4 linked regions of the Homo sapiens genome follow. The protein of the gene in region 1 purifies or fractionates together with the protein of each later gene. This does not show direct contact. Each region holds a gene or a part of one and is shown on either strand. Other genes may lie near its edges.

Region 1 (3,500 bases):
TGTGCATATGCATGCCTGAGCAAGGACCTTGAGAACAGTTCTGTAGATCAGAGAGGGGACCCTGAGCTCTGCTGGATGGAGTGAAGCAGGGTATCTGGTAAAGCAACTGTGGGAAGAACTGGCAAGAGCCAGGCTGTCAGAGAACAGCGTCATGGGGAGGTTGTGTGAGTCCGCGGGTGAATCAGAGAGGGTCTGGACATGCGTTTGGCAGGGAAAATGGACAAAGATTACATCTTAGAGAGGCCGCCAAGAAAAAAGAATGGAATGACTGGAAAATTAAAGGTAAAGAATTAATATTACTCCAAGATATTTGCTGCCCGGACCATAAAATGGTGTAACTACTGTGGCACTATCCTGCAAAATGAACATCTGGAACTTCCATCACCTAGCAAATTGTCTCCTAAATGTGTATGAAATTCTCCCTGTGTGCCAGGAGCTCAGTCCAGGATGTCCACAACAATACTGTTTATAGTGGCAAAAAAATGAAAATGCCCACGAGCAACAGAATGTTCACTGCCTGCTATTTATAACAGCAGAAAAAGGCAACTTAAAAATTAAGTTAATTATCTACTATTAGAAAACTGGTGAAATAGGCCAGGTGTGGTGGCTCATGCCTGTAATCCCAGCACTTTGGGAGGCCAAGGTGGGTGGATCATGAGGTCAGGAGATCGAGACCATCCGGACTAATGCGATGAAACCCTGTCTCTACTAAAAATACAAAAATTAGCTGGGCATAGTGGCATGTGCCTGTAATCCCAGCTACTCAGGAGGCTGAGGCAGGAGAATCGTTTGAACCCGGGAGGCAGAGGTTGCAGTGAGCCAAGATTGCGCCACCGCACTCCAGCCTGGGTGACAGAGCAACACTCTGTCTCAAAAAAAAAAAAAGAAAATTGGTGAAATAAGATACAGTACATCCATACAATGGAATAATATGTGCCTATCATACAACTAGTATAAATGCATATTTATTGACATGAAAGTTATTTCCTTGAAAAATTGTTCAACAAAAATAGTAAGTTAGAAAAACGTTAGGTGTAGCACGATGCCATCAATATGAAACTGCGTTTGTGATGTAATAAGACTGGCCAGAAAGCAGAGCCGCCAAGATTTGGTAGTGTCTCTAGAGAGCTGGACTGTGGGCTATTTCTACTTTCTTCTTTATACCTATTTGAACTCTTGGGGTTTTCTATAGCAATCACATGGTATTATTTTGTAGAAAAATATAACAACAAAATTTAAACAAAATAAATGAAGACAGGCCCAGCCACCCTTCCTCCCCTGGCCCTTCCCTCAGAGACCTACCTTCATCAAATCAACAGCATCTTTTGCATCCCTTTCAAAAAAGTCTGCTGGGAAATCGCGATCTGGGGGCCTGGAATGTCCATAGCCTCGAGGATCCCAGGCGACCACCGTGAAGAGCTTCTTATTGAGGTTCTTGAGCTGAGGTCCAAAATCAGTCTCTCCACTTCCTAAAAACAGCCACTTGGTTACCCTCAGGTGATCGCTTTCACTATCAAACACATTACAGTGAAAACAGAAGCAATAACAATCTTAAAAGCAAAGTAGTTTCTACTCAAAGTGGTCAGAATGTAATCAGGAAAGCAGCCTTGCAATGACTTAATCCATCCACTCGAAGAAAGGAGGCAGGCTGACCGGGTGCGCCTGTAATCCTAGCACTTTGGGAGGCCGAGGCGGGCGGACTGCCTGAGCTCAGGAGTTCGAGACCGGCCTGGGCAACACGGTGAAACCCCATCTCTACTAAAATACAAAAAAAAAAAAAAAAAAAAAATGTAGCCGGGCATGGCGGTGTGCGCCTGTAGTCCCAGCTACTCAGGAGGCTGAGGCAGGAGAATTGCTTGAACCCGGGAGGCGGAGGTTGCAGTGAGCCCAGATCGCGCCATTGCACTCCAGCCTGAGCACAGGGCAAGACTCAGTCTCCAAAAAAAAAAAAAAAAGGGGCCGGGCGCGGTGGCTCACGCCTGTAATCCCAGCACTTTGGGAGGCCAAGGCGGGCGGATCGCTTGAACCAGGGAAGCAGAGGTTGCAGTGAACGGAGATTGCGCCACTGCACTCTACCCTGGTGACAAAGTGCGACTCTGTCCCTCCACCAAAAAAAAAAAAAAAGGAGGCGCGCTTCCTTTCCCGGCGGAGTGCAGGCCTGCCTCCGACCTCCCCCTGGTGGCTATTTTGAGAAAGACAGAGGCCCTGGGTCTTCCTTTGCTTCTGTATTATTTCAGCACTTTTGAAACCTCTTTGGCTTAATCTTCCTTTTCTAAAGGAAAGAATTAATGAAACTGTATACAAATTAATTCACAGATATGCTTCTGGGTTATCTATTCTTCTTAAAACAATGACTTACACATGAGAGGGATCTCTATAATATCTGCAAAGAAATTTATGAGATTTGGTCCAAGTTATTCAAAGTAGAATTCTAAAATTCCAGATTTTTAATTTTTTTTTTTTTTACTAAGCTAAGGTGAATAGCCTAAAGATTTTATTTTGTAGTTATAATTAAAAACCAGGAAAACTAAACAAAAACACTGAAATGCAGAAGGGGTATGGAGGAAAGAAACCAAATCAGTTTCATCAGAACAGTATGAAACAGCCCATGCTAAAAGCTGAATTCTATTAGTGGGCCTGCAGGGAGCTTGGCCGCTAGTCCACAGCCCACCACGTGGTCCCTGTAGGTGTGGTGTGTTCACACCTACTGTGCACAGTGCAGAAGGCCACTCTCACAGAGCCCAGTCCAGGGGCAAGTCAGCATTTTATCAGTGAAGTCTGCTGATTTCTGAGGACTTCTACCTCAGGCCACAAATGACTACTAACCACTTTGCCTGACAAACCATATTAGAAAATGTCTTTCAAGGTGGTGCAGGATCATTCAACATTGTCAAGGCCTATCATTTTTCCTGGCAAGATATATCTTTCCCAAGATCAAGTAAACCATTCAGAAAATTCAAGCCAAAACCAAATGAATAGATCTCCAGCCCACATCTGCTGCTGTGACCCATGAGGCTTCTCTTCTGCCTCTGACCTGGAGGGGTTCTGGCCACGGAAGTACCCTGAAGGAGGGGCAGGAGGTGAGAAGATGGGAAAAAAGAACAGTCTAAAAGACCAATTTCAGAAACAAGAAGGCATTTGCTCCCTGGCACACATGTACACATTTGAAGACCAGTGCCAAGAATATAAAACTTAAAAAAACATTTAAGGAATACATGTACATAGTTATCAGCATGTAACATCTGAGAGGCCTGTGGGGAGGGGAACTGGGTGCTGAGGATAGGACAGGAGAGAGAATCTCCTCTGGTCCATTTTTTTTAATATTGGAATCATGCTAATACTTTACATAAAAAAAAATTAAATTGGGGACAGGTGCTGTGGCTCATGCCTGTAATCCCAGCATTTTGGGAGGCCGGGGCGAGTAGATCACCTGAGGTCAGCAGTTTGAGACCAGCCTGGACAACATGGTGAAATCTCGTCTCTACTAAAAATACAAAATT
Region 2 (3,500 bases), on another chromosome or scaffold:
CTTGCGGCCATTTCTGTCCACTGCAGCTTCGTGAGCCCGTGGTCAGGAGCGCTGACCAGGACTCTCCCCAGTCCCAAGGAGGAGCTAGCTGCCTGAGCCTCTGATCCTCCTAGGTTGGCAGTACACCGCCCTGGGAACTCCCTCTGAGCCTCGGTGACCTCAACGTGAACAACCGGAAGGTGGGCCTGGCCTACCTGATTTCTTCACCGCTTCCCAGGGAAGCACTCAGTCAATCCCTAGAACTATGAGTTCACCGCAGGTGACTAAACACCTTCCGGAAGCACCCCGAACAGCCGTGGGCCAGAACCTCCTCTCAGCAGAGCCCTGCCTCCCCTCTCTCTATGCGCCCCTTAGCTCCAGGCCCCTCCAAGACCCACAGCCACAGGTGACCACCTGGCTGGAAGGCTAGGGGTGGTTTTACCACGAAGCCCTGCCCCTTCCTTGTCCCTGCTGGTCCACACCCCAGGCAGCTGCCCTCCCTCCCCAAGCGTCTGCTCTGGGGCCCCTCCCCTAAGCCTGGGGAAGGTGCTTACCACAATGACTTTGTTGGTGATGAGGTTTTCTGGGCGATCTGACCTGGAAAAATCAAACCATGCAAAGGCAAACGCTTCCTGCATTGACCTCCCGCTCCCGCCCATGTGGGGTCTCCCTGGGTGATGCTGAGGGCTCTGTAAGTCCTGGATTCGGTTCAGGGACAAGGGGAGATGCTTTGCAGGAGGAGAGGGGAGGGGAGAGAGCAGAGAGAGAAAACATCGGCCTTCCTCTCTGTGTTTCCCTAAGAGAAGCCCCGCCCCACTCCCGACCTCTCTGGCAGGGGTAGGAGATGAGGGACAGTCAGGCTGGACTGACCACAGGGAGATCTGGGTCAGGGCCATTTCCTCAGAGCCTGAGTCCTGAGACACTCCCTGGGCTGTGTGACATTACTCACGTTTCTTCCATCAGGAACTCCACATCCAGCTCCTCCTCTCCCTGAAATCAGAGAGCATGAGCAAGTCATCAGCACATACCTGTGTCTTCAGAGTTGACACAGTTCTTTTACAGGTGTCATCTCATCCTCTCAAGCGGTCTCCAAGGGAGGCACGTTAGTACAATTATTTCCAATTTATGGATGAGGAAACTGAGGTATGGGGCCAGATGGGCTACCTGCCCACATTGCCCACAGCTAGTAAGTCTGCAGAGAACAGGTCTCCCTCCCTTGGAGGTCCCACAACTCTGGGCAAGACTGAAGGGGAAGACAAGGAGCACAGCCAAAGGAGGCATGATGTGCAGGACCCATATCTTTTTCTTGAGGAGGGCCCAGACCCCCGAACTCTGCCGTCCCCACCCCCAGGCTGCAGCAGGAAGGGACGTGAGGCCTTCACAAAGCAGGCCTTGGCACCACCAGCAGGAGTGATGGATGCTGAGCTGTGTTTTGAGGGGTGGCCTTCCTGCCACAGGTGGCTAAAATTCCTCCACTGGGTGATTCAGCCTGTAACTGTAAAGTGAAGCCTTTTCCTTGCTTATTAAAATGCAAATCTAAAAAGGGGTTTAGATTTTTCTGTGAATGAGTTCACCCCAGCAGCCTCCCAACAGGTGGGAGAAATAGCTACTTCCTCAGCTTGGAGTTGGAAGAAGTGGGGCCCACGGGGACTTCCCCACCCACCCACCCACCTGGGGACTCTGGGAGAAGGTTTTCCGGAGCAGCTTGCCAGGGAGGACTTCTGAGATGTCATAGAGAACCTTGAAGCAGATGTCATCCTCCGTGACTGAGTCCTCATCATAGATGCTAAGCTCCAGAACATTCTAGGAACCAGGAACAGCGACTTAGCATTTTACCTGCTCATAGTGAGAGTAGCTCACCTCTGTTGAGCCCTTACTTGATGTCTAGAGTCAGAGAAGATCATTATGCCACCACACGTCTGCGCTTCAAAATAAAAAAAAAAACTGTAAAACTTAAATATAAGGAAATCTTATTAAATTTCAAATTTCCTCCTTCTAATTTTTGTTTTTATCAAACATAAAATTCTGAGCTGGGCATGGTGGCTCATGCCTGTTATCCAGCACTTTGGGAGGCTGAGGTGGGTGGGTCACCTGATGTCGAGAGTTCGAGACCAGCCTGGCCAACATGGTGAAACCCCATCTCTACTAAAAATACAACAAATTATCTGGACATGGTGGTGGGTGCCTGTAATCCCAGCTACTCGGGAGGCTGAGGCAGGCGAATCGCTTGAACCTGGGAGGCGGAGGTTGCAGTGAGCCCAGTTCGCGCCATTCAACTCCAACCTGGGCAATAAGAGCAAGACTCTGTCTCAAAAACAAAACAAAACACATAAAAGTCTGTCAAATAATTCCCTCTTCCTCTCTCCCTGTCTGTGTGTCTCTCTCTCCCTGGCTTTTCTGGCTCCCTGAGGTGCACCCTAAGGTATGTGCTGGTGATCTTTCACGGTCTTCCACGCATTATCTCATCTCACCCCACAGTGACCTGATCAGGAGGGGGCTCTTACTGTCTCTGTTTCATAGCTGGGCTTCGAGAGGAACCCAGCTTGTGGGAGTCAGTCCCACAGCCAGTTGGTGAAAGGACCATGTTCATTCTTTCATACATTCCCTTGCACACAGCACAGACAGGCCAGGGCACAGAGACCCCCTACTGCTGAGAGTTTCTCTGACAGCCCCAGAGGAAGCATGCTCTACCCCAGGAACCCTTGCATGGGGGTCCAGCCCGTTCACAAGGGAGTGGCCAGGAGTCCCGGGCCTTCACCTTGACCTGACTTTGGATAAGGAAACGGAAGGCCTCATTCCACACAGGATGACTGGTGTCGGTGAGCGTCTTGGTCTTAAACTTCATTCCAGGTGCGGTCGACAGCTGTAGGATCACGTAAGGGTCGGCCTCACTCACTGCCAAGGTTAAGGAAGTCTTCGTGAGGGAGTACTCCCCACACCCCTCTCCATGAGCCATGCCAGTTTCCTACCAAGACCCTGGCGGTCACCGCAGGTGACCCAGCCCAGCCCCAGGGCACTCGTCTTGGCCCTTCCTATGGGATCTGGTCCTCCCTGCTCCCGACAGAGCGCACAGGGCGGTTACTCACACAGGTCAGCCCAGCGCAGGTTCCGCGCCTCCAGGACCCTCACTGTGAGCTGCCAGCAGGTAGAGGCCTCCCCCTGAAGAGAAAATCAAACTCCAGAGTCCTTCCTGCATTCCCTCCCTTATGCCTGGAGCTGCAGCCCGGGCTGCCGACACCCCTCACCACTCTCCTGGTACTTGGTGGTGCTGACACCCCTGCCAGGCGTTCCGGGGACACCCTCTGGGGACCAAAGAGCCTTTGTCCACTTCTGTTTTGGGGGTCATGGTTCTGGGCTGCAGCAGTCAGGGAATAGCAGCACACCCAGATGTGGAATTTGTGGAACCCCTTCCCCTTCGGGAACAGAGCAACATGGGTAGTGGACAGAGCAAGGAAGTGAGGGCCAAGGAGTGGCAACCACAGAGGTCAGTTAGATGTCAGCCATTCCCAGAGCTCCCAGGG
Region 3 (3,100 bases), on another chromosome or scaffold:
GGCCCAGCTCGACCCCATCACTGCTCTGCACAGACCATGACCACCAAGATGGCCTGCAGCTGCCAGGATGTTAACTGCAGCGGGACTGCAGACGGGTTCTCAGCTGCATTTTTCCTATGCTGAATACGTTACTTTTGTAACCAGAGAGAAAACGTAAGATTGTGTTCTTGCTGGGGGAGGTGTCCCGGGGTTAGCATTGCTGGCGTCCCACCTCTGCTTCAGACTATGCTGCGTGGCCCACCCACCTCACCCATCCCCAGCCCCTCCCTCAGGAGGAAACAGGCTGCATTCTGCCGCCTCCCGGGGTCCCTGCTCTTCTGTTGGCTGTGTTGTCTGTTCCCTGGGCACAGGGCCAGCAGGTCTCACGCACAGGCACGTGTGCTGCTGGATGCTACTGAATGTCTGACACTACTTCACTCAATCGACGGTGAGTCTGTAGCCACAGAACGCAGTGAGTGTTTAGGCTCAGTTACTAACAAACAGACGCCAGTGGGACACTGTTGGTTGCCTTACTTTAATGCTGACCTAGCAGCCCCGACAGGAAGCTTTAACATAAAGCCTTGACCCTGAGAAGCATGGGTGCGTCTTGTCGTGAGCAGGTTCATGGCTGTGCTCCATCCTCAGCCCGCTGATTTTTGGTCTTTTGTCCTTTGATCCAGCAGTTCCCACGTGGATGTTGTACTGCTTCTGTCCTGGAGAAGAAGAGTGAGGTCCAACTCTGAGCAGACACCACGTCATGTGGCACAGGGGGCTGACAGGCGTAATCAGGTTCAGGGTGCCTGTTCCCTCACCGGCCTGTCCTAAAAAGCTTGCCAGGCGCTTAGAAAGGGCCCCACTACCTCCAGCAGAAGGCCAGGAGCTTCAAGGCACCTGCAGGAGGTGGCGGGGGCTGAGCAGGACCCACGTCCCCGTGCTCAGCGTCCCCTGCAGCCAACTTGGCCCCTCCCTCACGGCCCTCCCACCTCATTTTTTATGGGGGTGGGTTTCTCTACTCAGAAGCATGGGCAGGGCGCAGTGGCTCACGCCTGTAATCCTGGCACTTTGGGAGGCTGAGGTGGGAGGATCACCTGAGGTCGGGAGTTTGAGACCAGCCTGACCCACGTGGAGAAAACCTGTCTCTACTAAAAATAAAAAATCAGCCGAGCATGGGAGTGCATGCCTGTAATCCTAGCTACTCAGGAGGCTGAGGCAGGAGAATCGCTTGAACCTGGGAGGCAGAGGCAGAGGTTGTGGTGAGCCGAGATCACGCCATTGCACTCCAGCCTGGGTGACAAGAGTGAAACTCCGTCTCAAAAAAAAAGCATGGTCACGGGGGATGTCTGGGCCTCTGATGGCCCCACGTCCTGTTGACCTACCCGGCTCCTGGGGTGATGTCCCTGACCTTGGTGCGGCACTCACCTTGATGTTGATGCCGTGGGCAGTCAGGCCCCGGCGCAGGGTGTCGCATGCTTCCAGCAGGGGCTGCCTTTCTAGGAGCTGCTGCCGCCGGGCGTCCCCCGTGGCCTCGGGCATGGCCAGCGCAAACTGCCGGACCTTCTGCCGGAACCGCACCAGCTCGTCCACCACACCATGCAAGGTAGCCTCGCTGCCGTCTCCTGAAACGTACTGAAGCCAGCAGGGCGCGGTTACGTCCCCCGGAGACTGTGGATTGTGGATGCCCCCTCCCCACCCCGTGGTTGGGCTCTGGGCCGACACCCACCCAGCCCTGGGCTTCCCTGATTCCCTGCAGCTGGGCCTCTTTCTGGGTCTGGCAGGGATGGGTACAGCCCGCGAGCGCTGGGCTCTGGGCAAGGCTCCACTCAACTCTGAGCATCTGTCGTCCAAGCAAGGCTGAGTGATCCTCACTCGGGAGTTGGAAGAAAGGGCTGGGGGCTGCATGCCGCCCCGCCCTGAACACAAACGCTCCCTGGCTTCCAGACCTCACGCAATTGTGGCCGAGGTATCAGGAGCAACCTGAGGATGAGGCTGGGGGGCAGCGACTGAGCGCTTGCACACGTGTGTTTCGGCAAATGGTCTGAGATTCACAGCCTCAGGTGCTGAGGACGGGATTTGCGCAGAAGGCCTCGCGCTGTCCTCCCACTGAGAACAGATCCTGGGGCGGTGTGGAAGGGGCAGCTGTACCTATTTGTTAAATCCATGTGTGTAAAATAAGAAACAGACACAACATTTGACCTTGGTGTCAAACTACTTAAACCTCACACACCCCTCAGTTATTGCTTCCATGATAAAAGACAGTTTTTGTTATTACAGAAATATGAGCCCAGAGTGGGCCCAGACATTGGGCCTTGCGGCCAGAGGAAGGTGAATGAGATATCTTTGACAAGGGCTAGGCAGAGCTTGGCCAGATCCCACTTTTCTTACTCAAAACAGACTCCGGAAAGCCACCCCTAAAAATGAACATGTACATTGCAAAAACTTGGGTCATCTCACACCAGTCGACTTTTATGTGATTGGCAACAGACGCCGGACTGCTGGAAAGGGGAACTAAGTCTACCAGGTGATCAACAGGTATACAAATGAGCCAAACTTGGAAAAGACACTATAGTTCTCTGTTGAGAGCCAGCGAGACATGTTTGGCCCAGAGCCAGGCCTTCAGCACACCTGCTTGGGCCCCAGTCCCAAGCGGCGGGACCCTCGGGGTGCTGGGCAGCTGGTCTAGAGTGGCAGCCCCCGTCCAGGCAGCAGCAGCCGAGCCACACCCCAAAAGAGCCAGAGCGCCTTGTGCTGAGAATTCTACAAGGGTGTCCAAAGAATGACAGGGATGTTCAGGGACACAGCGCCAGCCCCAAGGGGCCTCTGTCAGCCACATACAAAGTGATGGTGGGGACTTTAAGAATAAGGCAGGAAACCTCAAATCTGTATTGATAGAATAAACGAGTTTCAGGTGAGCCTGATAAGGAAGAGGACATTTTCATAGGATCCAAGTCTCTTTGCAAAAATGCTCTTGAGTTACAACGGAAGAGAAGGAATGTGGAGAAGCCTGGCAGCGTCCACCTTCACTGCACAGCCAGGGTGAGCCTCGCTGGGAAGGTGCAGGTGACTCGTGCCTGTCGGGGAGCCCGTCCTGTCCGTACAAAACATGTGCCAGGCAAGGGGGCTC
Region 4 (4,077 bases), about 150 Mb from region 1:
TCACGTTTTATCCATGTCTGTGTGGATTTTCTCTGTCTTCTGGTGTCCTGTCACATCCCAAAGCCGTGCAGTGCACTTTAGGTAAATTGGTGCATCTACACGATCCGAGTGTGAGTGTGGGTGTGTGTGAGCACACCCTGTGAGGTGCCCTGAGTTGGAATAAGCCGGTAAAAATGATCTCACTTTTATTAATCTTTATTTTTCTCTAAGCGAGAGGGATAGGGGGTGTTTAAAAAAAACTTTTTCTTTGAGACAGAGCTGTGCTCTGTCGCCCAGGCTAGAGTACAGTGACATGATCTCGGCTCACTGCAACCTCTGGCTCCTGGGTTCAAGCGATTCTCCTGCCTCAGCCTCCCGAGTAGCTGAGAATACAGGCACGCGCCACCACACCCAGCCAATTTTCTGTATTTTTAGTAGAGATGGGGTTTCGCCATGTTGGCCAAGCTGGTCTTGAACTTCTGGCCTCACGTGATCTGCCCACCTCAGCCTCCCAAAGTGTTGGGATTATAGGCGTGAGCTAAAAATCTTCCTTAAATATATGCATGGCTCACACTTATTTCAATGTTTAATATTAGAAGTGTTTTGGTCTTTATTTCGAAGTTTAGGGGCGATTTTGTGACCACAGATATGTTGTAGGAACTTCACTCATATCAATTAGCCTGTGGTCAAACTGTTTTCCTTACAGTCATTTGGCTTAAAGTTTCAGTTTCCAAGAACCCCTCCACGATGTTAGGTGAGGACTTAGGGAATGTGGAGATGACCTAAAGTTTATGATGGGAAGATGTGTGTAGGTGATATGCAAACACTTTTTTTTTTTTTTTTTTTTACCAAGGACTTGAGCATTTGTGGACGTGGGTCCCCTGGAGGGGCCCTGGAACCAATCAGGACTATAAAATCCTTTTAAGGTTTTAAGAAGAGCATTGTTATCTCTGTGGTACTGACGAAGACCCCGCAAGCTCACCGAGATTAAGTGCCCCTGCCTAAGGTTACAAAGCCTCTTATCCTCAGGCCACCTCCAGTACAGCAAATCCAAGCCCTCCCGTCTAAACTTGGCGCCCTGAGTACCAAGGGTCACCTCGGCCTTTCAGGCTGAAGGGAGGGAGGCTGAGTCTCAGGGCAGAGTCTGAGTCCCACTCCGCACCCCACCCTCTGTCTGGTACAGCTTACCAAACCAAAGTGCCCAAAGCCGTGACATCCCGGCCGGCGGCTCGCAGGCCCCCGCCCTCCGCACGTCACGGCCGCCGGGTGCAGTGCCCCCTAGGGGCCCCTGGGACGAGGAGGAAGCGCCAGGTCCTTCCCGCCGCCGCCGCCGCCGCCGCCGCCTGCTCCCCTGGCACGCGCCCCGCCGCCCTCGGCAGCCGCAGCTCCGTGTCCCCTGAGAACCAGCCGTCCCGCGCCATGGGCACGCGTCTGCCGCTCGTCCTGCGCCAGCTCCGCCGCCCGCCCCAGCCCCCGGGCCCTCCGCGCCGCCTCCGTGTGCCCTGTCGCGCTAGCAGCGGCGGCGGCGGAGGCGGCGGCGGTGGCCGGGAGGGCCTGCTTGGACAGCGGCGGCCGCAGGATGGCCAGGCCCGGAGCAGCTGCAGCCCCGGCGGCCGAACGCCCGCGGCGCGGGACTCCATCGTCAGGTGAGTGTCGGGTCTGGCCCTGGCCCAGGTCTCCAGCGGCTGTGGCCCCGACCCAGGGGCGGAGCGCCCGGGACCGCCGTGGGGAGCGGGGCGCGGGGCTGCGAGTGTTTGGTGCCAACTCATTAGGGGGGCCGGGCGGTGTGTCGGGAAACGCGGGCTTGGGCACTGCGGCCGGGAGCGCTGGCGGAGAACGGGGGATCCAGTACCCGACCGGGCCCGCAGCGCAGGTGGGCGTGGGCATCTCCAATGGGCGCCTAGCGGCATGGACCGCACGCCCGGCTCCACGTGCGCAGCCGGCCGCCGGCTCTGATGCAATCGCGCCGGGCGCGACCCAGACGGTAAAGGGGCGGTGCGGCTGGGGCGGAAACCAGGGGAGGGGGCGAGGAGCAGGAGGAGGGCGGGGCTGCGGCTCGGCGCGCCGGCTGGCCCGGGGTTCGGGAAGGGCAAGCGGAGCTCGGGAGAGGCGGGCTCGGGCCCAGCGCCGCCCGCGCGAAGCTCCCTGGTGTTGTGCGCCCTTCCCCGCGCGCGGCCCCTCCTGCTGGGCTGGGGTCTGTGGCTGACGTCCGCTTTTCCCGGAACGGCAAAGGTGGAGCCGGGCCCCCGGGACAGCCGCCGGGGGGAATCCGAGAGGTCTCAGCGCTGGTTTCCAGCTTCGCCGCGCAGCGCCCACGGAGTCCCCGCGCAGCTGGGTTTGCAGGGTTTTCTGCGGGCCCAGAGCGAACTGGGAGCCCCGGGCCCGGCCTTTCCCGTCCCGGTCCCCGCCCCTGGGCTCCAGCCTTCCCCGCCCTCGCCCAGAGGGGCGCACGGGTCTCGGGCCTTGCAGGGCGAGCCCTTCGGGACAACTTGGGGGTGGCAAGAAAGCCCCTTCCGCCTCCCTCGGAACTGGGATTAGGAACGAGTTCCAGGATGCGGTTTCCCCGGCCAGCGGACCACCTCCTCCATTCACATCCTCTTCCCTTTCCTTCTAGCCTTCTTTCTTAGTCATTGCCTGCTTGCCTTTCTCTCTGCCTTTCCTTCCTCCCTCTGCTCTCCCATTTTCCTCCCCACTCCCCTTCTCCCATCTCAGTAAAATACGTTTCCTAGGCTCTTTATTATGTGGCGGATGATTTTAAGGGGCCATTTATTTAGTTTTTCTTGTTCTCTGTCTTCTTTTTCTTTTAGAAATGGAGTCTCGCTTTGTTGCTCAGGCTGGAGTTCAGTGGTGCCATCTCGGCTCAATGCAGCCTCCGCCTCCTGGGCTCAAGCGATTCTCCCGCCTTAGCCTCCAGTGTAACTGGGACCACAGGTGTGCGCTACCATGCCCGGATTATTTTATTTTATTTTCATAGAGACAGAGCACCACTCTGTTACCAGGCTGGTCTGGAACTCCTGGGCGCAAGCCATCATCCCTGCCCCCAAAAGCGCTGGGATTAATTACACGTCAGGTCATTAGGTTTTAACCTGCACGTTGCTGAGACTCATCTTACCGGTTAGAGTCTGAAGCCAGGATAGGCGGCAAAAAAACTTCTCCCGTCATGCTGTTTTATTTTCTAGGTAAACTGATTATTACCTGAAACTTCCTTCTTTGCTCATTTCTTGTCTGTCTCACCCACCTGGAATATGAGCTTCATGAGACAGCCGTCTCTTCGGTGCTATATCCTAGGTCCTGGAGAGAGTGCCCAGCATGTAATAAGCACTTGTGAAATGGTTACAGAAGGAATGCTTCAAGATTTGGGGTCATCTGTGGGTTTTATTCATACATATTCTTTTTTTTTTTTTTTTTTTTTGAGACGGAGTCTTGCTCTGTCACTCAGGCTGGAGTGCAATGGCACGATCTTGGCTCCCTGCAACCTCTGCCTCCCAGGTTCAGGCGATTCCCCTGCCTCAGCCTCCCGAGTAGCTGGGATTACAGGAGCACGCCACCACGCCCGGCTAATTTTTGTATTTTGAGTAAAGACAGGATGTCTCACCATGTTGGCCAGGCTGGTCTTGAACTCCTGACCTCAGGTGATCCGACTGCCTTGGCCTCCCAAAGTGTTGGGATTACAGGCGTGACCCACCGCGCCTGGGCTATTCATGCATACTTTTAGGTTTAAAGCCATGACTGCCTTAGAGATGAGTAAAGAGGTTAGTAGGGGGCTTTAGGGCCTGCACTGGGTTCTCCAAACTCAATTCCTTCAGGAAAATGGGAGGAGTAACAGTACTTACCTCAAGGGGTTATGGAAACAATTATGTGAGAGGACACATGCAAAATACATAGCCCAGGACTGTCACATACAAGACAAGTCCCTCAACAAATGGTGGCTATTAATTTTTTTTTTTTTTTTTTGAGACGGAATCTCACTCTGTCGCACAGGTTGGAGTGCAGTGGCGGGATCTCGGCTCACTGCAACCTCCGCCTCCCGGGTTCAAGCGATTCCCCTGCCTCAGCCTCCTGAGTAGCTGGGATTACAGGCTCGCACTACCACGCCTG

The links. The genes of interacting proteins can lie anywhere in the genome.
Region 2: the proteins of BPHL (region 1) and PLA2G4D purify together in Homo sapiens (affinity purification with mass spectrometry; one large-scale study listed by BioGRID and IntAct). This does not show direct contact.
Region 3: the proteins of BPHL (region 1) and CARS2 fractionate together in Homo sapiens (co-fractionation; one large-scale study listed by BioGRID). This does not show direct contact.
Region 4: the proteins of BPHL (region 1) and MTHFD1L fractionate together in Homo sapiens (co-fractionation; one large-scale study listed by BioGRID). This does not show direct contact.

Annotation. Positions count from the first base shown.
Region 1 is NC_000006.12:3,125,211-3,128,710, reverse strand, and holds part of BPHL (serine hydrolase BPHL isoform 1 precursor), read right to left. Parts: intron 1,470-3,500; coding exon 1,303-1,469; intron 1-1,302. UniProt on the Homo sapiens protein: Specific alpha-amino acid ester serine hydrolase that prefers small, hydrophobic, and aromatic side chains and does not have a stringent requirement for the leaving group other than preferring a primary alcohol.
Region 2 is NC_000015.10:42,084,563-42,088,062, forward strand, and holds part of PLA2G4D (cytosolic phospholipase A2 delta), read right to left. Parts: intron 3,139-3,500; coding exon 3,066-3,138; intron 2,875-3,065; coding exon 2,738-2,874; intron 1,783-2,737; coding exon 1,651-1,782; intron 970-1,650; coding exon 929-969; intron 577-928; coding exon 534-576; intron 1-533. UniProt on the Homo sapiens protein: Calcium-dependent phospholipase A2 that selectively hydrolyzes glycerophospholipids in the sn-2 position. Has a preference for linoleic acid at the sn-2 position.
Region 3 is NC_000013.11:110,640,917-110,644,016, forward strand, and holds the end of CARS2 (probable cysteine--tRNA ligase, mitochondrial), read right to left. Parts: intron 3,065-3,100; exon of another isoform or gene 2,417-3,064; intron 1,606-2,416; coding exon 1,399-1,605; intron 693-1,398; coding exon 621-692; 3' UTR 501-620; downstream 1-500. UniProt on the Homo sapiens protein: Mitochondrial cysteine-specific aminoacyl-tRNA synthetase that catalyzes the ATP-dependent ligation of cysteine to tRNA(Cys). In addition to its role as an aminoacyl-tRNA synthetase, has also cysteine persulfide synthase activity.
Region 4 is NC_000006.12:150,864,425-150,868,501, forward strand, and holds the start of MTHFD1L (monofunctional C1-tetrahydrofolate synthase, mitochondrial isoform 2 precursor), read left to right. Parts: upstream 1-1,277; 5' UTR 1,278-1,398; coding exon 1,399-1,625; intron 1,626-1,908; exon of another isoform or gene 1,909-1,934; coding exon of another isoform or gene 1,935-1,963; intron 1,964-2,022; exon of another isoform or gene 2,023-2,788; coding exon of another isoform or gene 2,789-2,910; exon of another isoform or gene 2,911-3,158; intron 3,159-4,077. UniProt on the Homo sapiens protein: May provide the missing metabolic reaction required to link the mitochondria and the cytoplasm in the mammalian model of one-carbon folate metabolism complementing thus the enzymatic activities of MTHFD2.